5 linked regions of the Homo sapiens genome follow. The protein of the gene in region 3 interacts with the protein of the main gene of each other region in a pairwise test. Each region holds a gene or a part of one and is shown on either strand. Other genes may lie near its edges.

Evidence for each region.
Region 1: the proteins of ALKBH4 (region 3) and TXNL4B interact in binary tests that used the Homo sapiens proteins (3 or more experiments, as listed by UniProt).
Region 2: the proteins of ALKBH4 (region 3) and ZFHX3 interact in a two-hybrid assay, tested with the Homo sapiens proteins (one study listed by BioGRID and IntAct).
Region 4: the proteins of ALKBH4 (region 3) and MTMR6 interact in a two-hybrid assay, tested with the Homo sapiens proteins (one study listed by BioGRID and IntAct).
Region 5: the proteins of ALKBH4 (region 3) and TES interact in a two-hybrid assay, tested with the Homo sapiens proteins (one study listed by BioGRID and IntAct).

The regions. Positions count from the first base shown.
Region 1 is NC_000016.10:72,083,077-72,088,929, reverse strand, and holds the end of TXNL4B (thioredoxin-like protein 4B), read left to right. Parts: intron 1-2,127; coding exon 2,128-2,293; 3' UTR 2,294-3,754; coding exon of another isoform or gene 3,755-3,824; 3' UTR 3,825-4,073; downstream 4,074-5,853. UniProt on the Homo sapiens protein: Essential role in pre-mRNA splicing. Required in cell cycle progression for S/G(2) transition.
Region 2 is NC_000016.10:72,794,903-72,801,123, forward strand, and holds part of ZFHX3 (zinc finger homeobox protein 3), read right to left. Parts: intron 5,228-6,221; coding exon 5,125-5,227; intron 3,813-5,124; coding exon 1-3,812.
Region 3 is NC_000007.14:102,454,886-102,460,669, forward strand, and holds the end of ALKBH4 (alpha-ketoglutarate-dependent dioxygenase alkB homolog 4), read right to left. Parts: intron 4,917-5,784; coding exon 4,719-4,916; intron 3,097-4,718; coding exon 2,509-3,096; 3' UTR 1,353-2,508; downstream 1-1,352. UniProt on the Homo sapiens protein: Dioxygenase that mediates demethylation of actin monomethylated at 'Lys-84' (K84me1), thereby acting as a regulator of actomyosin-processes.
Region 4 is NC_000013.11:25,275,787-25,282,007, reverse strand, and holds part of MTMR6 (phosphatidylinositol-3,5-bisphosphate 3-phosphatase MTMR6), read left to right. Parts: intron 1-6,221. UniProt on the Homo sapiens protein: Lipid phosphatase that specifically dephosphorylates the D-3 position of phosphatidylinositol 3-phosphate and phosphatidylinositol 3,5-bisphosphate, generating phosphatidylinositol and phosphatidylinositol 5-phosphate.
Region 5 is NC_000007.14:116,237,656-116,243,876, forward strand, and holds part of TES (testin), read left to right. Parts: exon of another isoform or gene 1-677; intron 678-1,359; exon of another isoform or gene 1,360-1,594; intron 1,595-6,186; exon of another isoform or gene 6,187-6,221. UniProt on the Homo sapiens protein: Scaffold protein that may play a role in cell adhesion, cell spreading and in the reorganization of the actin cytoskeleton. Plays a role in the regulation of cell proliferation. May act as a tumor suppressor. Inhibits tumor cell growth.

The sequences.
Region 1 (5,853 bases), on a different chromosome or scaffold from region 3:
TTCAGTAGCTTGCCTATTTCCATGTGATGTTGGCTCTGTGAGTCTTATATCAGTACTGTTTCCCCAATTGACGCACTCTCTAATTTTTTATGCAAAACCTTGCTACAAAATGAGAGTGCTTCTGGTATGATTGTCAAATTTTATTTATTTTTTTAATAGTGCATACACATGGTTTGTCAAATTTTAATTTCCGACTTAAGTATGAAGAAATAGTACAGGTGGCAAAGCACTACCATCCATAAGTCTATAAAATATAAAATAGCCATATTAGCTAAATAAAGAACTCTTAAAATTTTCCCAGGAATTTCATTTGAAACAAAACATGTAGTTTTTCTTAAGCTTTTGGACTGGTAAGTGGCATTTATGAAAGAAACATTCCTTCTAGCAAACTAAGATGTGCTTCTCTCTTGCAAAGTTTCCTGCTTTTCGCCATTGAATTTTAAATCATTCTTCAACAAAGCCTGTCAAGAATAAGTAACATGATGTCCTCTTTAGTGCCTTCCACTCCATCCAATTACCATCTCAATACTTAATATTGATGATTGGGTGCATCCATGATTCTGATCATTTCTTACTGTGGTTGATGTGTCCACTTATCTAGATCTGTGTACCCTTTTTGTCTTTATTTGAAAGTATGTGAAATATTATCTGTTTTAAAGTGTTTTAGGCTGGGCATAGTGGCTCACGCCTGTAATCCCAGCACTTTGGGAGGCCAAGGCAGGCGGATCATTTGAGGTCAGGAGTTCAAAACCAGCATGGCCAACATAGTGAAACCCCATCTCTACTAAAAATACAAAAATTAGCCAGGCATGGCCAGGCGCAGTGGCTCACGCGTGTAATCCCAGCACTTTGGGAAGCCGAGGCAGGCAGATTATGAGGTCAGCAGATCGAGACCATCCTGGCTAACACAGTGAAACCCTGTCTCTACTAAAAATACAAAAAATTAGCTGGGCGTGGTGGCGGGCGCATGTAGTCCCGGCTACTCTGGAGGCTGAGGCAGAAAAATGGCATGAACCCAGGAGGCGGAGCTTGCAGTGAGCCGAGAGCGCGCCACTGCACTCCATCCTGGGCAACAGAGCTGCCGTCTCAAAAAAAAGATTAGCCAGGCATGATGGTGGGTGCCTGTAATCCCAACTACTCAGGAGGCTGAGGCAGGAGATTCGCTTGAGCCCAGGAGGTGGAGGTTGCAGTGAGCAGAGAACGCACCACTACACTCCAGTCTGGTGACAGAGCAAGGCTCCATCGCAAAACAACAACAACAACAACAAAAAAAAAACACAAAAGTATTTTAAAGCTGTTTATTCTACTGGAACACATTTGATGTAAGTATTAATTTGGTACAACCTTTTATGGGGGCCAGTTCAACATTATGTATCAAATAGTTTAAAGTTTTTAAACTTTTTAACCCAGTAATTACACTTCCAGGACTTTAATATGATGTTGCAGATGCACATTTAACAAATGAAAGAAATATATGTCAGCTAGAAAAAAGCATATTACTGAATAATTTGTATGACATAATTCCCAATGTTGGGAAAAAAGAAGTTTGTATCTGCACATACACACACACACACACACACACACACACACACACACACACACAAGATTGGAAGGATAGACACTGAAAAGTGACCTCTGGCCTCATCCGTGATTTTATTTATTTCTTTAAAATTTTTACAGTAACATACCTGGTGTTTGAGATACTTTTCTAAAAAATCAATTTTTTAATACCTACCACTCAAAAGGCCATGAATATTGAATGGGCTTTGCACAATGCCCAGGCAAAAGCAACAACAGCAAACGAAGAAACAATGTGCACTCCAACACTTGGTGAAATCTGCTTGATGATTTGAGAAGTGATAAAAATAGATTTTGTGATTACAATAGCTTTTGAAGCTAAAGCTTTGCACATGACAGAGCTTTCATGCTAGTGGCCCACAGCACTGGGTTGAGTCATTTACTAAATGGAAAAAAATGATTGAAAAATTAATGTTGGGCTTTATTTCTGAAGTCTCATTGACAAGAAGAAAATAACAAAGCTGTTTTTCATTTTGTTTATCCTGAAAGTCTTCAACAAGTGATTACTCAAAGTTCTTAGAGCAGTTGTTTCTCTTCTATGCTGTCTAGATCTCCAGATCACACTAAGTTTGTGGGAAGCTTCAAAACCAAACAAGACTTCATAGATTTGATTGAAGTAATCTATCGAGGAGCAATGAGGGGGAAGCTTATTGTCCAAAGTCCTATTGATCCCAAGAATATTCCCAAATATGACCTTCTCTATCAAGACATTTAGTACATTAATTGCTGTCAAAGATGAAGAAGAAGGCACATCTTGACACAGTACCTGAATCCAGCTGTGCTGTGTTTCTGGAGTCCTTTGGAAACATGTGTCCCAGAGGAGAAGAGGTTTGACTTGCGTGTAGAAAACCCGGCCCCTGAGGAAAAGACCCCACTGGTTCTCTGATGACCTGGGATGCCTAACTGTCTACTCCCTGCAAGCCTCAGAGCAGCCAAGTCATTGGTGTTCATTTTCCCCACAGTGATTTTTGTAACTTCTCTTTCTAATGTTTTTCTTTATCCCTTTAATACAGAACCCTCCCAAACATTGGCTAGTACAACTTGATTTCATCATGTTCATTTGATACACAAGTGAACTGGAAAGTCACTTCCCATAGAAGCAAAAGTACTTATTTTCTACCCTAGCTGGGTGCATGTGTGTGCACACACACACACACACACACCCCCACACCCCTTTGCCGGTTCCTCGACTCATACATCCCTCGTGCTTTCCCATCTCCAGTCTGTATTACTGTAGGTTCTCTTCAAATAATTAATTGAGCAGACAAGTTTGTTTTATTTTGGAGCCTTTTTGGCTCTGGCTTTTAAACATTGTCCTGGTTGGCTCATTTAATTTTTTTTTTTTTTTTTGAGACCGAGTCACTCTTGTCACCCAGGCTGGAGTGCAGTGGCGCGATCTCGGCTCACTGCAAGCTCCACCTCCTGGGTTCATGCCATTTTCCTGCTTCAGCCTCCTGAGTAGCTGGGACTACAGGCGCCCGCCACCATGCCCAGCTAATTTTTTGTATTTTTATAGAGGCGCAGTTTCACCGTGTTAGCCAAGATGGTCTCGATCTCCTGACCTCGTGATCTGCCCTCCTCAGCCTCCCAGGTGCTGGGATTATAGGCGTGAGCCACCGCGCGCACCCCATTTAATTATTTTTTATGTTATAAAATTTAATATGGAAAGTGAGAATTTGAACCTTCACCATCCACCACTCTATTCAGGTAAAACAATGAATGAGCCACCTTAGCAGGAGCAGATTTTTCCCAGAAGCTGCTGCCTCTTCCTGAGGCAGAAAATTGGATTACTAAGGCTCAAAACTAAAAGAGATGTCAGCATTGTTGGATAGAAATGTCACCTATATGGGATTTGCCTGTTTTAATAACTTTGTAAGGAATTCTTGCTCTTCTAGGGGTGCCTGGCGCAACCGTGGGCAAGTTACTGCTCCTCTTTAAACCTCGTGGTGGTTATTGAAACAGATTTATTAGAAGGAGAGGGTAGGTGCAGAGCTGGAGAGCCATGGGTGAGGCAGCTTGTGACCTGCCTAGCAGCCGCTGACCACCTCTCCAACAGAAGCCTAGTCCTGTTCAGAGCAGCACTGTCACTGCAAGTCCAGCCCCCTTTGCCAGGGGCTCCATTCCACCCCTTTCCTGCAGGGAGGGGTGCCATGAGTCTTGCTTTTGGCTCATACAGGAGAGAGGGAAGGCTGCCAGGCACTGCTTGTATCCCTGCTGATAAGAGGAGGGAGTCACTCCAGGAATAAGACAAAAGGAGAGGAGGAGGCCATCACCTCTGGCCTCTTCCATCGTACACTTCCTGTCTCTGGTTTAATCATGATGCATGGAGCTACAACAGCCATCTTAGGTCCCCGAGGTGCCCAGCATCACGTAAAACATCGATATGCTAAGAAGAACAAAAAGAGCCCAATCTCTGATGTTATTGAGCTCCTGCATGAACTCTGGACCTGCCTGCCTCAGACTTCTGTGAAAGAATAAAATTTCTTTTTGCCTAAGTCACTGTTAGTTGGGTTTTCTGTTCTTCAGCCCAGATCACACAGTATTTGCGGTATGGTAAGCACTCAGCGCACCAGCCAAAACTCAGAACCTGCGTGTGCAAAATTATCATGTCTTCTTCCTCCTGTTAGAAATAAGTTCTCTTATTTCTGAGTGCCGCAGAGGAAGAGGAGCACTCAGAAGAAAAGTTTCTCAGCAAGGCAAAGTTTACTTCTGCAGAAGGGTGCTGCCCGCGCCTATAGCAGTCGCAAAAGCACACCTAACAAAGGAGAACAGGTTTCTAACCCTAACGCAGTTCCTGCTTCTTTGTCTTTCCCCCATTGGCTGGGGTTGGACCGCACAGTCTAGGCTGACTCCAATTGGCTATGCGCTTGAATCTTTCTCAAATAAGGCAGAGGGTAAAGGTTACAGGTTAAGGTTTGGAGCAAGGCGGTTTACAGCCTATGACAAGAAAGTTGGATCTTTGAAGAGGAACCTTTCTTTTATTCTGACAATTTCCCCCTTTTTGTTGTTATAATTCTTCCTCTTCAAATTATTTTAGTAAGATTTGGCTTTGTTGCTCTTCTTGATTGTCTAGGAGTAAAAGTTGGTCTGAATATGGAGGGGGAGAGACAGAGAAGGTTTTAGTGCAAGCCATTTCTATGAGTCTTTGAACTAACCCACAAACACAAGGTGTGATGCAACAGCCTACAAGGATGAGTGCACTTGTAACAATGGCAAGGGAAGTGAGGATAGAGGCCATAAGTCCTTTCCATTTACCAAACCATCTTTTGGTTAAACCTGTGAAGGGGTCATCTATTCCAGAATTTTCAGCCAGCTCATTTGCTAGGGTGGTGAGGCCTTGTAGAGCCTTGGTAGTGGTTCCATCGGGAGCTGTGTTATTTGGGATCAAAGTACAACATTGGGCTCTGATGATTACACAAACTCTGCCGTTTTCTGCTAATGTCATGTCAAGAGCTATCCTGTTTTCCCAGGCCATTTGGCTGGTGGGACCAAATTGCTCGGCTATCCCCAAATGGTATCTCTGGTATAATTAACAAATCCTTGTTGATTGTAATATATATAGTTTATCCAGTCTACGTTTTTGTTTATAGTAGACCACCAAAATAAGACTGACTCAAACCTGGCAGCTATTTGATTTCGAGCTTTAAATTCATTGGCGGCTACTCGTGGTACTCCAATTGCCTCTATATAGACATGGGGGTCAAAAGACCCTTGAGGAGCTTCTCTTTCTTCCCAAGAGGGTGACTTTTTGTCGGACTGATGAAATGCCAGGGTGAAAGAGATGGCCAGTTGGATTAGAGTGCAAGTGCTGCTCCAATTATTTGGCAGCATACCCAGTAGAGGTCCTCCACAATACCACCAAACATCTGCTTGTGGATAGACAAGGGCAGTCTGATTGGTGAGCTCTCGAAAAGGCTCGGATTCACTGCATCCCGTTAGATTCCTGAAAGATGTAAGTTTTCCCCGTCATGAGAGACAAGAGGTAAAATTGGCATCAGAGGCCAGGAGCCAGATGGCCCTTGGGGGCTGACCCACAGGGAAGTCTTTGACTTTTGGGAAAAGCAGTGAGAGACTGGTGCATGACTTATTACCCCAGGCTGTGGGGTGCTGGAAGAGAGCTACTGTACAGTCCATGCCCGGTTGGTTAGACCATCCAAGCAGGAAGGGAACTATTTGGATTTCTGGCCTGCCCATTGCACAGGCATAACAGTCGCTTTTATTTAAAGTGCAAACTGAATATTTGATCCATTTCAGCCAGGCATTCATTTCTTGGTG
Region 2 (6,221 bases), on a different chromosome or scaffold from region 3:
TATGGCCCCAGAGAGCAGCTGGCTGGCCAGGAGTGGGTTACTGGGATCAAAGAGCATGAAAGGCATATCCAGGGACCTGTCCAAAAACTGGGGGTGGATGAACTGGTTCTGCGCGCTCAGGAAGTGGAGCTGCTGATGCTCCTGCCAGTGCTCAAATGACGGAAATGCCAACTTACACTGGTCACACTGGTAGGGGATTAGCTGAGGAGGTAGGTTTGCGAGCTGTTGAGGAGTTGATGTGTGGAGGGGCTTGAGGGGCAGGTGGGAGAGCTGGGAAGGACTGGGGCTCGACTGGGGTAAGGGGCACTGTGGAGGGGGCGCTTGTGGAGGAGGCTGTGGCAACGAAGGCAGGGACACCAGCTGGGGGAGCTTCTGCTGGGGAGTGTTGGTCTTCTGCTCGGGCTGCTCTTGCTGCTGCAGCTCTGGCTTTGGTTGTCCTTGCTTTTCTTGGGTTTGGTTTGGCTGTGCACTGGGAGCTTCCGCCAGCTTTGGTTTCTCATCGCCTGCCTCTGTTTTTGAATTGAAGGTGGCCAGTTCCTCAGCCTCCGCTGTAAGCTGCAAGAAAGCGGAGGAAGCTGTATTATTGGCTGATGGTGCTGGGGCGCTGTAAGCCTGTGAGGGCATCGGGGTACTGCAGGATGAGCTGGTAGGCGTCAGGATTTCCATGGCATCCATGGAATCCTCATTTTGGCTGTCGTCCTGCCCCTCCTCATCCTCATCCTTGTAACACAGCTTCTTCTGGTGCTTGATGAGATCAAAGATGCGCTGAAACACCAGGCTACATTTTTTGCACTGGTAGTTCAAGTTGCTTGTTCGAATGTATCTATCATTTGTAAGCTCACGCCGCTCTCCATCTTTGCCCTCTCCCTGATTCTCATAATTCTTCCTGGCCTTCTGTCGGGCATTCTGAAACCACACCACTATCACTCGGGTTGGAAGGTTCAGTAAATTAGAGAGTTGCTCAAATTCATCATCCTTTGGGTAAGCATTGGCATCGAAGAAGTCCTGTAAGACCCTCAGCTGGTAGTCCGTAAACCTTGTTCTTGAAGACCTCTTGCTTCCCCAGTACTCCTGCTTTGGAGGTTCCGGCGAAGGGGGCCGGGAGTCAATCTTGAGCTCCTCCAGGCTGGTGATAGGAGGATTACTGAAGTTGTAAGGGGAGTCCTTGTTACGCTGCCTCTCTTTGAAGAGAGTGTTCCTGAACCAGTGCTTGATCACTTTCTGGGGCAACCCGGACTTGTCTGCCATCTCTTTTATTTGCTCTTCACTGGGGGAGTTGTTAATGTCAAAATATTGCCGCAAGACTCGGAGCTGATCATCTGTGATCCTGGTGCGAGGCCTCTTGTTCTGCTGCTGGAGCAGGGTTGGATTGAGCTGATGCTGGTAGAGTTGGGCCAGGTCCGCAGGCAGAGGCTCCACAGGTCCCAGCTGCGGGGGTAGCTGAGCCGGCAAGGTCTGCAGCGGCATCGTCTGCATCATCAGCGGCGAGAAGATGGGCAGCTCCATCGGCATGGAGAGCTGGGTGAGCGGCACTGATGGCTGGGCCGGTGCAATTGTAGGTGAGGTGATGGGTGGGGCTGATGCGGGGATGGCTGGTGTGGACGCCGGCTGAGGCGGCGCTGCCGGAAGTGGGGGTGGAGGGGGTGGAGGGGGAGGTGGTGGTGGCTCTGGGGTCTGGGGCCTCAGTGGGTACAGTTTATCGTAGTGGTCTCTGTACTGTTTGGCAAACCTCTCGAGCTGTTTGAAAGGAAAGTAATTCTGATGAACGTGCTCTTGATGACTCTTTAAAATCAAGATGTTGGAAAACAACTTGCCGCAGGAGTCACACTCGAGCTTTTCCAGGTTCTCTCCCTGGTCAGTCTTCCCATTCTTTTTCTGCACCTTCTGCTTGTTCTCATTATACTGGATGACCAACTCAAAGCCAAAGTTCTCCAGCAGGGCCTTGGTGGCGTTCCCTCTGGCATCTGAAGCAATGCGTGGAGGGAGCATGGAAGGCTCAGAACCACCCCCTGGTGCCAACTCTTTCTTCTCTTTGGCCTTCAAGGCATCTGGCAGTGTTTCCTTCGGACCGGTGTTGCCCTCTCCCCCCTCGGCGCTGTCCCTCTCTCTCTGGCTTTCTTTTTCCTTTTCTTTGATGACCAATTTGTTCTTCTTTTCGGGGTGCTGGCTTGGCTGAAGGAGGGCAGAGTGACTCTGGGCTATAGAGAGTTGGTTCTGCTGCTGCTGCGGCAAGATCTGCTGATGGCTCTGCTGTGGGACCTGAACCTGAGCCTTCAGATCTTCCAGCAGGCCTGGGCCTGTCCCAGTCAGTGTCAGTGCCCCACTGGTCACTGGCAAGCTCACCTCGGGGTTAAGCTGGAACTCAGCACTGGGGATGTAGAAAGGGAAGAGGAGGTGCTGCTGCTGCTGTAGTTGCAGCAGGGTCTCAGTTGTCATGGGGAAGTGAGGAAGGAGGGTGGGGTTAAACAGCTGAGACTGGATCAGGGCAGCCTGTTGCTGCAGCTCCTGCTGCAGGTGAGCTTGAACTTGAGCCTGGGCCTGGGCCAGCGTTTGTGCTTGTTGTTGTTGTTGTTGTTGTTGTTGTTGCTGTTGCTGCTGCTGTTGTTGCTGCTGCCTGGATGCAATCATATCTGCCAGTTTCTTCCGATTGGCCTCTTTGGGCTCTGAAGGGGAAGCAATGTTGGCACCAATAGGATTCCCCAGGGGTGGCATCCCTACACTCTCAGTGGGCACTTGGCTTAGTAAGTTAGAGCTTGGAGCAATGCCAGCACTGCTTGGATTGGAGGTGGTAAAGGTGTTACTGCCACTGGTGCTCACAGGACTTGGCGTGGAGGAGCTCAAGGAAATACTGCTGCTGTTCCCAGTCCCATTGCTGCTGCCACTTGCAGCCTCCAGCTTGGCTGCCCGGGCCTTGGTTTGATGTAACACAGACCTCATATGGATCTCCAGAGTGGAACTCTGGCTGTAGGCCACATTACAAGTGTTACACTTAAAAGGTTTGTTGTCTGGGCTGCTGGTGGGTTCTGGCTGACCGGTTGCTGATTCTTGAAGGGCTCTCTTTAACTTATGCAGGTGGGAGACAGAATTGTAGTGTACTAGCAGGATATTCTTTTGAGTGAAAGATTCCTTGCAGACGGTACACTTGTAAGGGCGAGAAGGGTCTAGGAACTTTTCCATAGTAAAATTGGGACCTTTTCTGAAAGGCAGAGCTCTCTTTGGCTCTGAGCCCGAGTCTTCTTGTACTGACCCAGAGTCACTGCCCGTTGGGCTCTGTTTATCTTCCAAGTCACTCTCTTCCTCCTTGTCTTCCTCAACAATTATGGTATGGTCCTCTGCCAGAGTGGGGTCTCCCATTGCCAGGAGGTCCCCATTGGCCAGCAGGCCACCATAAAGCTGTTGGATGTCAGCCTCACTCAGCTCCAGGTGGCTTGTCTCAAGGTGCTTCTTCAGAGCCTGGAAAGTTCGGAAACTGCGCTGACAAAGACAGCACATGGTGGCAGCTCTGATCACATGGTACTGAGAATGGAGCTGCAACTTTTCAATGGTCTTGAAGGCCAGGCTACACTGATTACAGCGGTACTTGTACACATGGCGATCTGACACCGGCAGCTGAGGCCTCTTGGCATGCACTTCATTAAAATGCGTCTGAAGGGCAGCAGAAGTTTTGAAAACCTGGTTGCACCCCTTCTTCCAGCAGATGAAGCCTGAGTCTTCTCTCACAGAGCCTGGGTCAGCAGGGGATGGTTTCAAATCTCCGCTTTGCTCTGTGCTTGCGGATGGCAAGATGTTCTTTCCCAGATCCTCTGAGGTTTCTGTTAAAAAAAAAAAAAAAATCAAACCCAAAGATAAAGAAGGCTTTGTTTCAAGGATGGCACCCAGAGCGGTCTACCTAGTCAGGCCTCATGAACACAGAATCTGATGATGAGGGAAGTGCCCAACCTGAATGACAGAATCTCTGCGGAGCGCCTCCTGCTTTCTTTTGTTCCTCCAATAGAGCACATATTATAAACAGGGTGCACATGAACAGAGATGGATAAAAGGAAATACAAAAAGTTTCAATGCATAATAGACCCATGTCATATCACAGATCTAACAGTCTTTTAAATAGCATTTAATTGCTTGACTCAGAATCCTCAATTTCTCAAGAGCTGGTTTGAAGGTTACTGATCTTAGACTGGATTTCCCTTTTATGTTCATCTTTTATGTAATAAGCATTTAGCACAGTAGATCTGAAGTGTAGAATATGTGAATTAATGCTGTCCTAAGTTGTGAGGAATTTACAAGAACTGCTGAACATCGTAATATAAGAAATTTGGGGATACATATTTTTAGGCATTTAATTTCTTGTTATAATGTGACTTCTGATTGCCATCTCTATTCAATAAGCAATTAACATTCAAGTGTTCAATTATTTAAAATACATTTTTTTCCCTACAATGAGATCATCACACTCATAAATACCGAGACCCTTTAACAGGTCATTTGTCCATTGTCTAATATGGAAAACTCACAAGAAAGAGAGAAGGCAGGACAGTAGTGTGGCCAAACTCTTCCCAACTTAGAACTCTTCCCACCTTAGAGGTGAACGATGTAGGACAGCCTCACAGAGGTCTAACCATTCATCTAGCCAGGAAACACTATGTGGCACCAACTACTGTCTACAACAATGTTCTTTCCATCAGCATCTCTGTGCTTCATCCTAAGCCAATCCCAAAAAACTCAGAACGAAAGACAACTAATCCAGTGTACCTAAAAATCAACCCACAAGTCCCTACTAATTAAGTCCTCAGAAATACAGTGTTTAATGGCTTAGAATGGTAGGGCCTACTGACTGAGTCTCTGGTTATTCACTCCCTAATTGTATAGTTTAAGAAGATGTGTGTGTCTGTGCCAGAATTCCACTGGTTCTCATACTAATTTTCTCTCACTTTAAACCATGTGAGTAATATACAAATACATGCCAAGAAGCAGAGTATAAAGTAGCTGATGACAGTGCCCCTCATCTCCTGATCAGTTACATTCACCTTAAGAGTATTGTAAAGAATTCCTGAAAACCTTTCTCCATGAACATTTTGGCATTCCATCTTGTTTCAATTTCTTGGGGTCAAGAATAATGATACTGACCAGGCTGCTTTCCTGCCTCTTCCAAATTGGAATTCCCATCTCGATCTGGAACAGCTGCTGGGAGGAACATGCTGCTTGGCATCACCATCTCAGGGGTGGTCACCTGAGGAGCAAGAGCAAGGAGAGTCAAATGGAGAGGAAAGCGACACAAAATAGGAAATGTTTAAAAATTATTTAATAAGCAAAATTAGCCTTCACCAGTGTAAAGCTAGAGGTGTCTCACTTTTCATAGCTCACTGAAGATTCATGTTTATTAGACAAAGCTCACATCAGTCAAAAGTGTTTCTACGGTTACATTCTGGACATAATTAGCAGTGCACACTTGAAGAATAATCTTCTTATTAATATTTTTCCTTTATGCAGAATTTTGACTTTGATCACTGACAATGTTTTGTCATGGGCTGTGAAACTTCTTGTGCAACCAATTAGGTAGATAAGTTGAAAGGCCCACCTTAAGCTGCTGAAAACATAATAAGGGCCCTAATTAAATCATACCTAGTAAAGTACACTGTAATCTTGAAGCAGGGAGCATTGTAGTACTGTTTTCAGAACGTATTCAGGCAAGAGGAGGAGGGGAGTAAGAGTGAAGGAAAGGGTAAGAAGAAAAGAAGAGAACAAAGGGAAGGCTAGGGACACGCAGACATGCTGGCAGATTTTCCAGGAAAACAACATTTGTAACCCTTTACAAGCTGACATCAAGCACAAACAAGCCTTTTTTTGTGACTCACTTAAGCCACGATTTCTTCTGGAGTCTCTGCCCAAGGTATACAACATCAGAGGGAACTTCTGACCAACGTCCCAGCGATAGAGGGTGGCCTGCACAGCATTCTACAACAGGGCAGCCCCACCTTGACCATGGCCATTTTTTCTCAATACAGCAGTTCTGGAAATCGCCTGGATCCAAACAGCTGCAACTTTTGGGCAGAGCCTCAGATATTTCTCTAGGCCTCCCTGCCGTACGGCCAGAAGCCTGTCCAAACAAGTTATCATTTGCCTTATGTTAATGTGATAAGCAGCCCTCGATATCCAATGGAAAGATCAAAGGTTCTTCATTCAAAAAGAAGCAATATCCTTTTGCCTGATATGGGGTGGGAAGG
Region 3 (5,784 bases):
ATGGGGCAGGCTGGGCAGAGGGGCTCACACCCGTTATTCCCAGCGCTTTGGGAGGCTGAGGCGGGAGGATCGCTTGAGCCCAGGAGTTTGAGACCAGCCTGGGCAACATAGCAAGACTCTATCTCCACTAAAAATCAAAACAAAACAATTAGCTGGGTATGGTGGCACACGCCTGTAGTTCCAGCTACTGGGGAGGCTGAGGGGGAGGATCACTTGAGCCCAGGAGTTCAAGGCTGCAGTGAGCCATGATTGCGCCACTGCACTCCAGCCTGGGCAACAGAGCAAGACCCTGCCCCGCCGCCTGAAAGAAAGAAAAAAGAAAGAGAAAGGAAGAGAAAGAAAGGAAAAGAAAAAGGAAACATACGAGGCTATGGGGCCGTGTACGGGGGCCAGGCTGTGGCAGAAGCATCCTGGCGTGGCCTTCTCCAGCCCCATCCTGGTTGGGTAAGGTGTCGCCGTGGGTCTTCGTGTCACAGCTTCAAGGACAGACCCAACTCTGGTATCACAAACTTAACAGGTAATGGAGTTTCCTAAAGTGTGCTCTGCAGGAGTGCTGGAAGGGCCAGCATGGAAGGACCCCAGGGAGGGAGATTTCTTTGCTCCACAGCATCCCCAAGCCTCACGAGGCCTCTCCCCTCCAAGTCTCTATGTGCATCGTTCTCCAGATGTTGGAGCATCCTGCAGGGGCCAGCCCAGCCTGTCAGGGGCAGAGACCCTGCACTGGCCCCCTCGAGAGTGGACCCCTGGGCTGGCTTATCTGCTCCAGTGCAGTGAGGATCAGCTGGAGCTCCGACCTGACTCACATCTGGATGCGCAGTGAGGGGCCCGTTGGGGCCGTGATACTGGGAGGAAGCCGGGCTCTGTGCTCTTGCTCCAAGTGAGTTGACCAGGGAGCCGAAGTTAAGGTGGCCTGGGAGCCACGTCCTCCCACCTAGCGGCTGGGCTCTCACAGCCACTAGAAACCCATCAGCCTTTCCCCTGGGTCTATGCGGGGCTCTTCAGCCCTCCTGGGAGCTCAGTGGCTGGGATGCTGCTTTACAGACAGTGCACGGCTCTGCCATCTGACAGCTCCCAGAGGGTTCTGGGGGTGACTGTAAAGAGTGGTGCTGGCCCCGAACCTTTCCTGTTCCCCTGGATTTAGTTCCCAGCAGGTGGTGAGGAACTGAACATTTTGTCCCATAGTGGTGGGAGAGAGGGCTGGCCACATGGGTCCAGGCCACCCCCTCAGCCTCCACAGCCTGCCCCGCACCCAGCCACAGGAACAGCAGAGCAGCTCCCCCATCCAGGTAAGCGCCCCCACCACAGCCCCATCACAAAGGAATAGCCTCCTGGTGTAGTGGGAGGTGAGGAGCTTTTTTTGTTTTCCTTTTATTTATTTTAGGGACAGGGTCTTGCTCTGTTGCCAAGTTAAGTGCAGTGGTATGATCATGAGCTCACTGCAGCCTTGACATGGTGGTAAAGCCATCCTCCCGCCTCAGCCTTTCGAGTAGCTGGGACTACAGGTGTGTGCCACCATGCCCAGACGCCCAGCTAATGTTTGTATTTTTTGTAGAGATGGGGGTCTCACTATGTTGCCCAGGCTGGCCTCAAGCAATCCTCCCACCTGAGCCCCGCAAAGTACTCGGATTACAGGTGTGAGTCACCGCGCCTGGCCGGGAGCTTTAATTTTTCCTACTTGTTAACAGCGTTATGGGGCTGGAAGGAGGCTCTCAGATTTCCCTGCCCTCCTCACATCCCCCAACCCTCCCTGGGCGTGGGGGTGTCAAGCATGAGTCAGGCTGAGCCTGACTCTGAAGCTGTTCCCAGCTCTTTAGTCTAAACTTCAAATCTTCAACCCTGTTCCCTAATCCAACACATTCCCCAAATGAAGGGACTGGACAGTGAGATATCGGGAAACCCCATGAAAATAGATGCATAATAAAGGTGAAAATCATTTAAAATGTTCCCATTTTTTTTTTTTTTCAAAACAGTCTTGCTCTGTCACCGAGGCTGGAGTGCAGTGGCGTGATCTTGGCTCACTGCAACCTCCGCCTCCCAGGTTCAAGCAATTCTCCCACCTTAGCCTCCCGAGTAGCTGGGATTACGGCTGTGAGTCACCACACCCGGCTAATTTTTGTAGTTTTTGTAGAGACGGGTTTTCACCGTGTTGGCCAGGCTGGTCTCGAACTCCTGGCATCAAGTGATCCGCCCACCTCAGCCTCCCAAAGTGTTAGGATTACAGGTGTGAGCCACTGTGCCCGGCCCCCAGTATTTTTTAAGCTCAAATGATCCCATGTCCCCAAGACTGTGACAAACTAAATAACCAAAAAAGTGTGGCCACGGTCCAGGTGGAAGGGGGCTGCCTGGAGGTACGTTCCCATCAAAACCTGCTCCTGGGCAGGGCTCACACTGCTCACAGCATCAGGGGTCAGCCATCTTCTCTTGAAACCCCGTGAGTTGCAGGAGGCCCTGTTCTGTGCTCCTCATTTCAATCCCGGGATCAGTCAAGTCTGGAGCCAAGGAGGCGGTTCACACGGGTCTTCCCTGGAAGGAGAGGGCGATCCGCAGCAGTTCCTGGCCCAGCTCTTGCTGCCTCCCTCCAGGGCCAAACTCAGCCGACAGCTCCCGGAAAGTGACGCAGACGCGGCGGGCCTCGATGTGTCTGCGGTGGATGGCATGCTTCCACTGGTGCCGTGCCGCCCCGGTGAGGACCAGCAGGGAGCGGGCGGGTAAGGGGATGGCCACCTCCACCTCCTGGCATAGCACCGACCGGCTGGGTGCTATCACGCTGTCCACCAAGGCCTCCGGGGCAGCCGACGGGGCCGAGCAGAGGAGCAGGCTCCCGGGCGCCTCCCGACACATGGACAGCACGGTGGGGGACAGGAGGTTGAGGCTGACCAGCCGCTCCCCCCACAGCCAGGCGTCGTCCAGGTGGGGGTCAATGGCAGAGCCCCGCTCGGGGCAGTAGTCCAGGTTGCACTGCTCGACGGGCCGGAAGCCCTCCAGCCCCGGGTAGAGGCCCATCCTCCGCACCACCTCCCGGCTGAAGCTGGGGAGGCCGCAGAAGCCCTCGGTCTTTAGCTTCTGTTTCCGAAAGTTGACTTTGGGGCCATAGTCCTGAAGGATGAAGACAAAGAGGACATGAGGTGTCTGAGTTTACGAAGATGTCTACCACAGACTAGGTGGGAAGAATTCAGTCATAGTGACCCAGGCAAGCAAAAGCCCCCTGGCTTCATGGAGGTGAAGCAGGAGGAGGCAGACTCAAGGAGACAGAAGTGACAGCAAATGGCCGGGCATGGTGGTGCATGCCTGTAATCCCAGCGCTTTGGAAGGCTGAGGCGGAGGGAGCTCTTGAGGCCAGGAGTTTGAGACCAGTCTGGGCAACAAAGTGAGACCTCCTCTCTACAAGAAATTTAAAAATTAGGCTGGGCATGGTGGCTCACGCCTATCATCCTAACACTTTGGGAGGCCCAGGCAGGTGGATCGTTTGAGCCCAGGAGTTCCAGACCAGCCTGGGCAACACAGCAAAACTCTGTCTCTAGTAACAAAACAAAAATTAGACAGATGTGGTGGCACAGGCCTTAGTTCCAGCTACTTAGGAGGCTGAGGTGAGAGGACTGTTGGAGCTCAGGAGGTTGAGGCTGCGGTGAGTGGAGACTGAGCCACCGTACTCCAGCTTGGGAGACAGAATGAGACACCCTGTCTCAAAATAATAATAATAATAATTATCTGGGCTTGGTGGCACATGCCTTAGTTTCAGCTACTCAGGAGGCTGAGGTAGGAGGATCGCTAGAGCCTGGGGGGTCAAGGCTGCGGTGAGCCAATATCACATATTGCACTCCAGTCTGGGCGACAGAGCGAGACCCTGTCTCAAAAAAAAAAAAAAAACCTGTACACAAATGTTCACAACAGCCAAAAAGTGACAACAACGCCAATGTCCATCGACAGATGAATGAGGAAATGAAATGTACCAACATCCAACAGGATGTCACAAAAGAATGGGGCTGGGCGCGGTGGCTCACGCCTGTAATCCCAGCACTTTGGGAGGCTGAGGCGGGCGGATCACTTGTCAGGAGTTCGAGACCAGCCTGGTCAACATGGTGAAACCCCGTCTCCACTAACAGTACAAGAATTAGCTGGGCATGGTGGTGGGCACCTGTAGTCCCAGCTACTTGGGAGGCTGAGCCAGAAGAATGGCTTGAACCCGGGAAGCAGAGGTTGCAGTGAGTTCAGGTCATGCCACTGTACTCCAGCCTGGGTGGCAGAGCGAGACTCTGTCTCAAAAAAAAAAAAAAAAAAAACCTACAATGAAGGGAGAGGGGGCACCCGGGGATGTTTGGACACAGGTGGGGAAGGAGTTGGAGGGAGCGGCGGGCCCGGGGAGGGGGAAGGTGGGAATGCGTGTGAGGAGACAGGACACGGATGGTGACAATGGGAGGTGGGGGCGCCTGCAGCTTGGGAGAATGGGGTGCCTTCACCACCACCAAGCCAGCTACAGAGGGGCAGAGAGCCCAGGAGCGCATATCACAGGGAGATGGGGTGCCCAGGTGCACCTCTGCCCATCGGACACACGTCCTGCAGCGAGTCTGGCTGCCCACAGCCCCAAGGTCTGGGGAACTCGCCCACTACCAACCCTGGAGGTTTGAGGGGTGTGGCTGCAAGGAGGGGGATGGCCCCCAGCAGTAGGGCTGTCTCCTCAGCGCAGCCCAGCAACCCCCATGAGCTCAGGGCCGGTCTACCTGCTTCCTCCGTCCAGACTGGGAGAGCTTCCAGGGGTCACGGTCCATGAGCCGCACCAACTCGGCTTCTTCCTCCCGGGTCACAAAGTCCTCGATCAGCATCACTCCTGGGAAGGGGAAGGCCCAGCCCTCAAAGTCAGACTCCTCTGTGCCCACGGCCCAGCCGGTGTCGGAGCAGTAAATGAAACGGTATGTTTTCTGCAAAAGAAACACAAGTCCACAGGCTGGGCAACACAGCGAGACCCGGTCCCTACGAAAAGTTAAAACAGGCCAGGTGCGGTGGCTCACGCCTGTAATTCCAGCACTTTGGGAGGCCGAGGTGGGTGGATCACCTGAGGTCAGGAGTTCAAGACCAGCCTGGCCAACATGGTGAAACCCCATCTCTACTAAAAATACAAAAATTAGCCAGGCATGGTGGCAGGTGCCTGTAATCCCAGCTACTCAGGAGGCTGAAGCTGGAGAATTGCTTAAACCCAGAAGGCAGAGGTTGCAGTGAGCCAAGATGGCACCACTGCACTCCAGCCTGGGCGACAGAGTGAGACTCAAAAAAAAAAAAAAAGTTTAAATAAAAATTAGCCGGGTGTGGCAGAGCGCACTTGTCATTTCAGCTACTCAGGAGGCTGAGGCGGGAGGATCATTTGAGCCCAGGAGGTTGAGGCTACAGTGAGCCATGGTCGCGCTACTGCACTCCAGCCTGGACAACAAAGCAAGACCCTGTCTCAAAAAAAAAAAAAGAAAAAAAAAAAAGGAAAGACACATCCTGGAGCCATGGCAGCCCCTGGCACTTGTGTGCCCTCAGGAGACCCTCTGATGGCTCATTCCTCCCCTCAGGACACTGTGGAAGGCAGCTGGAGTCTAGGGGGAGGTGCAGGCAGAGCCTCTGCCCCAGGCTGACCGGGGAAGGCCCGCAGCCCTCTTGAGCTAACACGAATTTGATTGGTTTCCTTTCTCACTTTCCTCCCCTGTAAAAGAGAAGGGTTTGTACAACATGTTTTTCCTTCTCCATTTTACAAAGGAGGCTCAGCAAAGTTAAGGAACCAGCCCGAGGCTGGACAGCACCTCCTGC
Region 4 (6,221 bases), on a different chromosome or scaffold from region 3:
GGCCACTGTAAAATCTTTGCTTTTTTTGAGTGAGATAGGAAGCCATTGATGGAATAAGCAAAGTAAGAAAAAACTGAAAAGTGCCCACTGGATTTACGATCTGAGGTTACTCTCTCCCCTCTTGAGGTCCATGACTGTTTCATTTGATAATTTATGCAGCCAGACACTGTTCTAGAAATTGGGATACATGAACAGAAACCATAATCTCTGCCCTCCACTTCCTGCACACAACTTGATGTGCTTTCTTTTTGAAAGCTAATTCTTGGCAGGATGTCAGTGTGAAATGATTCTGAGAGTCCTAGATGAGTGCCTGGCTATAGGGAAGGAGTGCGACAAGCCAGAGGAACAGTGATGGTGCACTTTCTGCTTCAGTAGCCACAGCGTCTATTGTTATGTAGTTGTAGAATAAGTACAACTGTTGGTCACAGAAGTCTGAAGAAGGCCATTGGTCCCTTCCTGTCCCAGAGGCCACTTTTTCCTCAGGGATAAAGAGGTGTCTGAATTTTCTGAATGTGATTCTGTTTGTGTGACTCCCTGTGTTTTTCATTTGGAATCTTTTCTTCTTTTTTTTCTTTTCTCTTCCTTTCCTTCCTTTTCCTTTCCTCTTTTCTCTTTCCCCTTTCCTTTCTCCTTTCTTCTTTGTCCTTTCTCCTGTCTTTCTCCTTTCCTTTCCAACAAGATCTTGCTCTGTCACCTAGGCTGGAGTGCAGTGGTATGATCATAACTCATTGCAGCCTCTACCTCCTGGGCTCAAACGATCCTCCTGCCTTTACCTCCCAAGTAGCTGGGTCTGCAGGAGCATGCCACCATGCCTGGCTAATTAGAAAATAATTTTCTTTTTCTGTAGAGATGAGGGTGTCACTATGTTGCTCAGACTGGTTCTCAGACTCCTGGTCTCAAGCAATCCTCCTGCCTTGGCCTCCCAAAGTGTTGGGATTACAAGCGTAAGCTACTACACCTGTAGTGGCCCCAACATTTTCTGAGTGTGATTCTGTATGTGTGGGGTTCTCTGTGTTTTCCAGTTCTAATTTTATAATTGGCTGAAATTTGAACTTTCTGCCTGGACCATTAGGGTACCTTTTAGTGCAGGCCCATAGTTGGCAACAATTCAACTAAATAGTCCTTAAAGTAATGTGTGTTGGCATTTACCATTCCTCACCAAAGCGACATCTTCCAATTCCTTTCTCCTTGCCACATTTTCGTTTTTCGTTTGTTCTTTCTTTTCCCAAAGTCTTTTTTTCTTTTTTTTCATTTACTTTTTGGCTGTGATGATACCTATAATTTAAGGATCCTAATAGTTTCTTAGTACTTCAGTGTTAGTGACCAGAAAGAATTGTAGTTGCTTCCTAAACATCTGACTTAATACATTTCCAAGAACAGACTGGGGAAAATCTGTAGCAACATCTGTAAAATACTTTTAGTTCCTTGCTGAAAGGGGGAAATATAAAGAAGCAGTTGGTTTTTAGAAGTTGACTAAGTCTGTGGTTTGAAATTTGTATGCCAATGATTTTAGCAAAGAAAAACATTTGATTTCCCCTCCTTAGGGGTGAGGGGTGGGATTTGCCACAAAGAGCAAAATAATCAGTGTATTTTCTCAGAAATTCTCTTATTTTCTTGAGAACTTTAGTGTAAATACTAAATAAATGTTGTGGAATGATTTCAGATTAATTTCACTATCTGTCACATTCATATGGAGATTACCCATTGAAGCAGTTGTATGTAATGATTTTCTGTTATATAGATTTGAATATAAGTTGGTTTATGCTAAGATAGTCCTCAGTTTGTTATATTAAAGACATTCCTTTCAGACATTTTCTTCTCTGTACTACTTTATCTTAGTGAATGGCAACCAGTGTGACAAGCTTAAAACCCTTAAGGAATCTCTGTTTTTCCTCCTTTCTTCCTTCCGTTATCAGTTTTGTTATTATCTCAAGATGGACTTCCTCTCTGTCACAGCTTACTCCAGGCCCTAATTATATCAGCCAGTCACTTAGATGGCTTCATTAGCTTCTTACCTGGTTGCCCTTAATCAACTCAGCATTTTCTCCACATTCACACTGGAATGATCTTACAAGCCATATTTCCTAATGGACTACTGTGCTTAAAAACCTCTGTATCTTTTTTAATCTACAGCACAGATTTTGTACCTTAACATATGGTTTTTTTTTCATCAGATAAACCTCTGCTATTGAGACATAAATGTTATATTTCCTCTGTTGAGAATTTTGTATTTTCCCTATTCCCATTAGTGAAGAACATTTTGCTGATCTGTGCTTTCATCATTTACAGTAGTTTCTTCCAACTATGGAGCACCTTAAAATATGGAATTTGCCTTTTAAACTCCATACGCATCCTTCTTCCTTTCTCCATTTGAACTTATCTGGATAGTAGCTTGACATAGAGGACTGTCAGGGCTCTACCTACTTGACTAGATTACTAACTACAGTAGTTTTGCAAATATTTACTTGAGCACAAATATTATTGCTTATATTTATTAGGCAAATAAAGTACCTGTATTAGTCCATTTTCACACTGCTATAAAGAACAACTCAAGACTGGGTAATTTATAGAGGAAAGAGGTTTAATTGACTCAAGTTCCACATGGCTGGAGAGGCCTCAGGAAACTTACAATCTTGGTGGAAGGTGAAGGGAAGCAAGACACGTCTTCTCATGGTGGCAGGAGAGAGAGAGAGCAAAGGGGGAAAGTGTCCCACTTTAAAACCATTAGAACTCATGAGGACTCACTGTGAAGAGAGAACAGCATGGGGGAAACCACCCCCATGATCCAATCACCTCCCACCAGGTCACTTCCTGCACACATGGGGATTACAATCCAAGATGAAATTTGGACGGGGACACAGAGCCAAACCATATCAGTACCTGACATTTATTATCCAACCTTTCAGTAGCTTTCTGAAAAGAGATTATTGTCCTTATTTTAGAGATAAAGAAATGAGATACAGATAGATTGGCCCTTAGTTGATAGCCAGTACATTTTTGTTGAGTGAATTAGTAAACTCTTTCCTGATAGTATATATTTATCTACATGTTCTTCAAAGATGTATGTGTGTTTGAGTGTGTGCGTGCATGTAATGGAGTTGTGCATCTGTTTTATTTTATTTTATGACAGAGTCTCGCTCTGTCACTCAAGCTGGAGTGCAATGACTCAGCCTCTGCTCTGTGCAACCTCTGCCTCCAGGGTTCAAGTGATTCTCATGCCTCAGCCTCCTAAGTAGCTGGGATTACAGGTGTGCACCACGATGCCCAGCTGATTTTTTTTTTTTTTTTTTTTTTTTTTGCAGAGTCTTGCTCTTGTGCCCAGGCTGGAGTGCAGTGATGCAATTTCGGCTCACTGCAACCTCCACCTCCTGGGTTCAAGCGATTCTCCTGCCTCAGCCTCCCGAGTAGCTGGGATTACAGGTGCCTGCCCAGCTAATTTTTGTATTTTTAGTAGAGACAGGGTTTCACCATGTTGGCCAGGCTGGTTTCGAACTCCTGACCTGAGGTGATCCACCCTCCTTGGCCTCCCAAAGTGCTGGGATTGCAAGCTGCGCCCGGCTGCTAATTTTTATATGTTTAGTAAAGCAGGGTTTCGCCATGTTGGCCAGGCTGGTCTCAAACTCTTGGGCTCAAGTGATTGCCTTACCTCTGCCTCCCAAAGTGCTGAGATTACAGGCGTGAGCCACCACACCCGGTAGCAGTTGTGCATTTTAAAGGATCAAAGTTGTAATAAGCTCCTTTAAAATGTGGGAGAAATAGATAAGCTGAGGCTGTTAATATTTGGGAAAAGAGCCTAAAGGTAGAGAAGGAAGCTAGCCTCATGTGTGTTAAGAGTCAGAGGAATTAATTTGGAGTTAAAGTTAGAAGAAATGTCAGTTGCATAAGATGAGCAGGTGAACTTATGAAAAATACGGATTCTTAGTCTCCATCTCCTCAGATAACTGAGTGAAGTTGGGGTGAGGCTTTGGATTTGTACTTTTGCAAAGTTTTAGAGGTGATTCATATGAACAGCTAGGATTTGAATCCTGTATAGCTGACCAAAATTAAAGATCTAACAAAGAGAATTTCAGATTATTTTGCATATAAAACTAAGGGGAGTCAGGAAATAGGCTTAGAGTGTTGGAAAGAGCATTTTCACCACAAATTTCCCACCTTGATAAGAGACCCAGCCAGAAAGAACTATACAGTTCTAGAGGAGTGATTTTATTCTAATCGAATGATGGAGTGGGGATAGAGGATTGAAAGTCCAGACATGTACTACACACAGAAAAAAAACCCAAAACCAAAAACTGAACTATACCTATGTGTTCTACTAGTAGTTTTCTATTTGCTTTTAGTTTGTTGCTGGTTTATTCAAGAATTACTGAATGAATACCTACTGTTCACCCACTGTGTAGGGAAAAGATAGCAGAGAGATGAGGAAAAGTATAATGGGATAAAGAAGAATCTTATTTAATAAATCAAATGATTTCAACAAAAGGGATCACTGGTAAATTGGGCACACCTTCTGGTTTTCACCTGGGGGAATAATTTTTCTGTGGCCGTTCATCTTAGTTCAACAAACATTTATTGTGTCAGACACTCTACTAACCGTTAGGAGATATTCATGCATAAATGAAAGACAGTCTTTGCCCTGGGCTATGTTAGTCTTTAGTGGAAAAGACAGATACATGAACAGAGGCTTTCATTATAATTTAGGAATTACTTTAATAGTGGTGAAAGGGGCAGATTTAAAAATATTTAGGTGATAAAAATGGTAGGAATTGGTGATTGATTGAATGTTGGGGGTTGAGAAGAAGTCATAGGATCATTCACGGATTTCCAGTGTGGGTGACTTGATAAGGATGGAGGAGTAACATTAACTCACATCCAAAATACAGAATTAGAAATGTATTTGTGAGGGGTGAGAGGGGAAATCAGTTTTGCGTTCAGTATGTATAACACGGCTCAAACACATCTAAGTGGAGGCAGTATAGCATAGTGGGAAGGTGTTTTGGCTTGGGAATCAGATCACATAGGTTTATGACTAAGCTATACCACTAGCTGCTTCTAGCTGTATGACTTTGAGATGACTAACCAACCTCACCAAGTCCCAGTTTCTGTGGGGACAGTACTAGTACATACTACACAGGAGTTGTGAAAATTAAAAGAAATAATGTATGGTAAGCACTTATCACAGCACTAGGCACATAGTGAGACCTCACTAGTATGTCAGGAAATATTATCTGTGTAGCAGACAGTGTGAACTCAGGAGACAGCAGAGCTGGACATACAGTTTTGGGAGTCATTAAAATATAGGCTAACATAATGACAGTAGGTAAGATTCCTATAGAGAATGGACCCCTGAGGAAGAGTAATAGTGAACAGGGGATGGACAGAAGAGGAATAAAATCCAAATGAAAAGCGGTGTGATTGTTTTGCATGTATAGAAGCTTTGTAGATACTTGTGCCTCATAGAGAAGTTACAACTTGAGGTTTATAATTGGAGCACAACCAGGAATATTTATGATCTTCAAAAAATCCACAAATTTAAAATTTCACATGGATTTCTTTTTAAAGCAAACTTCCTATTTAAATAGTAATAAAATCAGCCCCTCCCCACTTTTAAACTACTTGCCAGTAGACTTTTTAATTTTTTCTGAGAAGCTATTTGAAACTCTACTGAATGATGTGGACACAAATTATTTGCTTGAGTAGTGTTGATACTTTGTGGTAACCTTTATTTCCATATATATTCATCAACTGTCTTCTTGTTAGAGCCTTAAAAACTTTGTTTTAATAGCTTAGGAAATGATATGGTTTGGCTCTGTGGCTCCACCCAAAAAGACAGGTGAGATCTATATTGCAATAATTGCTCGGTGGTGGTTGGCCACAGTGCCCTTTCCAGCCAAGTCACGCACAATGAAGAGGAGTAAACAGTAGTTGATCCCATTTGTCTTAAAAGGTGTTTAAGTTTGGATTTGCAGTGTGTTGTAAAATGAAGCTAGATTTTTATTTAAGGGAGAAATAGTCCTAAACAGTGAAATAAATGTTGACCTCTAAGAGAAATCTTTATTCAGGTTTTTAAGTAGAAAGCCTTCCTCTCCCCTCCCCTCCTCTCCCCTCCCCTCCTCTCCCCTCCCCTCCCCTCCCCTCCCTTCTTTTTTGAGACGGAGTTTCGCTCTTGTTGCCCAGGCGGGAGTGCAGTGGTGCAATCTTGGCTCACCGCAACCTCTGACCCC
Region 5 (6,221 bases), about 14 Mb from region 3:
AGGCTGCCATAACAAAATATCACATACCTGGTAGTTTAAACAGAAATGTACTTTCTTCCAGTTCTAGAGGCTGGAAAGTTCGAGATCAGGTGCCAACATGGTTGAGTTCTGGTGAGGTCTCTCTTCCTGGCTTACAGACGGCTGCCTTCTCACCACGTGCTCACATGGCCTTTCCTTGGTGTGTGTGGGTGTGTGTGTGTGTGTCTGGAGAGGAAGAGATCTCTCTCCCTTTTCTTATAAGGTCACCTATTCCAATGGATTGTGACGTTCACCTTGTGACATCTTTTAACTTTACTTCTTAAAAGCCCCTGCTCCAAATACAGTCACATTAGGAGTTTGAGCTTCAGCATATGACTTTGAGGAAACACAGTTCAGCCCACAGCACCCCCTTCCCCTGCTTCCACATACCCCCAAGTTGTTAGGAATCATTTTCCTTTTTATCACCTTGTATACTTACAGAAAGCCAGGAGATAAATACCCAGACCTCATTCTTCATCACTCTGATTTTCTGCTGGCACCTCCCATTGTCCCATTGCCAGTGACAAGGGATCCCACAGGTGTAGTCCTTAAGGATCAGCCTTCTGGGAAATAGCACAGAGTACTGAGGCATGGAGAATGAATCTGGAGAGGTGAATGGAAGATGCCGGATCAAGGTGTATCACCATAGTTGCAGGAGACTAAAAATTAATTATTAGGAATTTAGAGTGAACTTGTAACTTAACTAGTCTAACCTCATTTTACAGATCAAAGACCTAAACCAAAGGAAGTTAAAATGACTTGTTTGAGCCCATGAGTTATTAATAATATAATTTGTGAATGATTTCTATGTGTCACACACCAGTAAGCACTTGTAATAATTTTCTACTGCTGCATAACAAATTACTACAAACTTTGCAAGTTAAAGCAACAACTGTTAACTCAACATCCATCATTATTATTATTATTATTATTATTATTATTTTTGAGATGGGGTTTCACCCTTGTTGCCCAGGCTGGAGTGCAATGGTGCGATCTCGGCTCACTGCAACCTCTGCCTCCTAGGTTCAAGTGATTCTCCTGCCTGCCTCCCGAGTATCTGGGATTACAGGCGCCCGCCACCACGCCCAGCTAATTTTTTCTATTTTTAGTAGAGACGGGGTTTCACCATGTTGGCCAGGCTGGTCTCAAACCCCTGACCTCAGCAGATCCACCAGCCTCAGCCTCCCAAAGTGCTGGGATTACAGACATGAGCCACTGTGCCCAGCCAACATCCATTATTTTTCAGGTTAGAAGTCTGGGATAGGGGAGCTGGCTTAGCTGTCTATGCTTAGCACCTCAAAAAGCTGAAATGAAGGTGTTGGCCAGGCTAAAAGTACTCACCTTTAAGTGCGAGGGAAGAATCTGCTTTCAAGCTCATTCTTGTTGGTAGAATCTATTTTCTGTGGTTGGAGAACCAAGGTCCCTGTTTCCTTGTTGGCTGTCAGCTGGGGGCTGGCTACTCTCAGCTTCTAGAAACCAGTCACATTCATTGAGGTACAATGCCTTCCATCTTCAAAGCCAGCACCACTGCTTAGAATCCTTCCTGCACCTCACATGCCTCCAACTTCCTCTTCTGCTGCGAGCCAGAGAAAATTCATTGCTTTTTAAGGGCTCACATGATTAGAGTAGGCACGCCTGGAAAATCTCCCATTTGCCATATAAAAGTAACATAATCATGAAAGTAACACCAGGGGACAGAAGTCATAGGGGCCATGTTAACATTCTGCTTACCACAGCACTGTATGTACCTGATTGTACCTAATCCTCCTAATATTTATTTTATTATGTATGAGAAATCAAAGACGTAGGAAAGTTAAATAACTTACTAAAGTTATGGCTTATAGATGGCAGAGCTGAATTTGAACTCAGAGTTTTCCAAAACCTTTCTCCATGGCAGAGTAGATATTAGAATGCACATTTTTCACTCTCAGGGCCAGTGAACTTTGAACTGCACCAGGCTGTCGCCTCTGAAGTGTGATTGTTGTGACACAGACATCCTTGTGGACAAAGGTGTACTTTTACTGTGAGCTCTCTCCTTTTTCAGTGTGCCCATGATTACAACAGTAGAGGAAAATAAAAGGTTCAGGAAGCCTAATAATGACCCAATAAGAAACACTATCTGCTGGGAATGCTTTCAAGTAATATATAGAGATAAAGAGTGTTTATTGAAATGTATGACACAGACCCAAGGTTTCCAGGAGTTTATAGCCAGTTATTTCACATTGAAGGTATAATTAATATAATTGCAACCATGTCATTTATCATATTAAGTAACAGAATTATTGTTTTGCTTTACCTTTGTTAAAGTCTCCTAATAAAACAGTTGCATTTTATTAAAAATGCGTTACTTGATTATAACATACATCTGTTCAGAATTTCTGATTGATTTAGAGCTGGGTGAAAACTAAAAATTCCCTACCATAAATGGATTAATACTTGTGTTGAATTCTGTCACAGAGGCCCACACTTAAATCCATATATGTATATCCCTGTTACAAAAGGGCAGCTTCCAACCCTTTTAAATTATGGTTTGTAGCAATGCCATGGCCGTGCTTTTAAATCACTGTGAATGCTGGCAGCATGTCAAAGCACTCTAGTTTCTACTGCTTGCCTTGGAAAAATAGTAAGTTTTACAAATAGTGATACAAAAAAATTTCTTTTGGGAGAATAAAGGATAGTTTCTTGATTTTTTTCAGCTTGAAAATGTAAATATGTTTATTTGTCTGAGGCAATACTTTTGGTAGTTTTGTTCTTGCATTCGCTCTCCCAGGCTCGCTCTTTCTCTCTCTCTCACTCCTTCCCTCCCCCTCGCTCCTCCCTTTCCTCCATACATATTAATGTTTGCATATATATGTGTTAATGGTGCTAAATTCTTTTTGTACAAACAACTTTTTATACAAATAACCCTCCTCCATCCCCACACCTTAGAGCTTCCCAATCTGCCAATCCACCTTTGCACCTTTTTAAAAGAATCATGAAAAAGACTTTTAAACTAACTTAATTCTGAATCCCCTTCCCTTTTTTTCCCCATAGAACTTTTCTTAACATCCTATGGAGAATCTGGAGAGAGAACTGCTCAATAGGACAGTTTAGAAAATTTAGAGGTTTGAAAACTGTGTTAAATATGGGAACTGATTTATATACTCTCTTAAAACTATCAACTCAGTATAGCACAAATAAATAAACAAGCTGTTTAAATCTATATATATCATCAGAAGTTACTTATGGATCATCTGATGAAAGATAATCCACACACCGTGCAAACAGCCCCTTGCACATGGGTATTGTGCTCACCCATACTCTGTTTGTGTTTTTGTTTTAGGTTTGTATAAAACCACGTTTTTAAAGTTCTTCATTTTCTTAAGGGTAGAATCTGGGTTAGTTTAGGCTGAAATTGAATATGTGATAAACGTCCCACTTATTCTCAGGCCGCTCTTGGATAACAAGATCACAGTGGCATCCTTTTCTTCTCCAATTCCACAACAAGGTTTTTCTTTTAATAAATGTATTGGATTGCTTCCAAATGACTTTGAAAGTTTTTATAGGTATTTCTAAAAGTAAAATGTTTTAGTTTAAATGTGGGAGACTCAAATATAAAACACTGTAGATTAGAACTCTAAGAAAAATATTTTTAAAACCTAAAACTAGGTAAGTGGTAATAGCACAGATTTCCACAATAGATAGCTCCTGGCACCTGGTGCTGATTTTATAGTATGTTTTCTTGCAGAGTAGTTTGTAGCTGGCTCTTCTCCTTGTAGAAATGGAGCTCCAGTGTAAGGCTTCTGGAAGGGATGTGGTCATCCCAACTGTTTTAATGATGACAGCTCTAGTTGAAGAGCCATCCCACCCTTCTTGGGTCACATTCTTACCAAGGACTCTGTCACCACAATTCACCACATTGGAGGATGCAGATGAGGCTTTTAATATAGTCATGATTTTTAAAATTATAACAAATCAATCATAGGTTTTCTCTACTTAGGAAACTGAAAATTATATGGCATAGTATGACTTCTTAGGTATTTCTTTTTTCTTACCACTAGCGTTATTGGTATGTTGTTTTAACCTGATTTTACTCACTTATTAACAAAGGTATGTTGGGTGGTTAAAGGCATTGATAGAAAAGCAGAGGCTTCCTGAGATTGTGAATTCTTCTAATTGTCAAGACAAATAATAATTTAAAAAAATACAGAGCTGGTTCTTCTATAATTAGTAAATTTAACTCTTTATATTTAACACTTTCACAGTAAATATAACTTTTTTAACCAAGCCACAGCTCACCATAGTTTATTCATGCTTCAGAAATCATCAGGCTTTATTTCACTTGTATCTTTTATTATTTATCTTTCAGATTCTAAAATCTGACCCTTATTTTGTGGTATTCATGTTGTACTGGTGTAGAACATAGATTGTAAAAATTTCCAAAGTCCAGTGTTTATTATACGGCCTCGATCCTTTAAGATACCACTTTGCTAATTATTGGGATGCATGCTGTAGCTCACAGCCATATAAGGATCTATTTAGCTATATTAAGAACTAAATTCCCACTCCACCTTCTTCCCCCCTCAGGAAGGTATAATTTTAAACTTGAACCAAAAGCAGTGTGATAGTTTTATAAATAATTACATTGTTTTTGTTAACCAAAGAGTAAAAGTAAAGAACATGCTGTAGTAGGATAACTTGCTGCTTTCCACTAGATGGGAGTATGAGATAACCAGATGTTAGAAAGATTATTTTATAGCTGAACTAGCATATGCAAATTCTTCAACAAATTCTTACCAAATAAAGATTTCTGACTAGTGTGCACAAGGAAAGCAATTTGCCTCTTCACCACCTATCTCTCTCTCTCTCTCTCTCTCTCTCTCTCTGTCTCTGTCTCGGAATATACAAGTCAAATCTAATATTTTCAGTTTGCATACTGAAAAGTATTTTAAGAAAATTCAGAATACAACAAACTAAAATCTATAATTAATAATGTATTATTTGGCAATGAGATACATTTGGGTTTTTAGTTGTTTTTTCTGTTTCTGATGTAGATAAATTCCATGATTTATATTAATTTTAAATTTAGAAAACTTAGTAAATTCTTCTTAATGCTAATTAATACATTGCATTTCTCTGTGGTCATAGCATCTGTGAATAGCAACAGTTTAGTTTTTTTCTTTCTGATGAATTCTTGTAACTTTTCACACTGCTCTGATTAGTACCTTCAGAACCATATGATTAGAATTGGTGATAGCAAGGTTGCTTTCTTGCTTCACATCTTAAAACTAATGCAGTAAGTATGATCTATGCTGAGTGTCTGGGTTTGTTCCCCCCATGCCTCATCCTCTAGGAACTCTTTCTAGAATAGTTTCTATTTCCTTTTACTAGTTTCTGCTATTCTCTTTATTTTCCTTCCTTTTACTTCAGGCTTATTATGCCTTTTTCCTAACTTCCTGAGTTGAACACTTAGTACTTTATTTTTTCCTTTTTTCTAATTTGAGTGTTTTAAACTATAAATTATTTAGTTATCTAGTTACTTCAACATGCATTCTTAGCCTAATTGTATCTAATGTTAATCCATGTTTATATAGACTGAACAATGTAAGTATCTTTAGAATGTGTTTTACAACACTCAGATCGCCACTCTTATTGTTATGTTGTCGTTGCCATGTATATTGCTTCCAGCTTAAATTTTTAACACCACTCCCTACTCCTCTGTTTTTCTCTGTCACCTTTTCCAGCTTCTTTTCCTCTACTAGACTCTTTCTTGAGTCCTTACTTTTTCCCTCTACATTTTTGCCAACAGGCACAGATGATCTCTTTAACTCATATTCATTATATATTGTTCCCTGACCACCAAATTTATATTTCCTACCAGGCTACAGTTTTTAACATGAGAGTTATAGATCCTACACTCTGTGATATCTTTACCTTGTCTCACAGGCATATCAAATTTATCAGTGGTTTCATTTTGGAGACTTCCATCAACCTTCCCCACTCCATACTGCAAAACTGTTCATCTTTTGAATATACTATCTTAATAAATTATATTCATTCTACTAATTTACTCATCCCAGAAACTTGGTTTTATTTTTCAAGAGACTGAGTGTATTAGTCTGCTCTCAGTTAGTCAAGACATACCCAAGACTGGGTAATTTATAAAGGAAAGAGCTTTAATTGACTCACAGTTCAGCATGGCTGGGAAGTCCTCAGGAAACTTA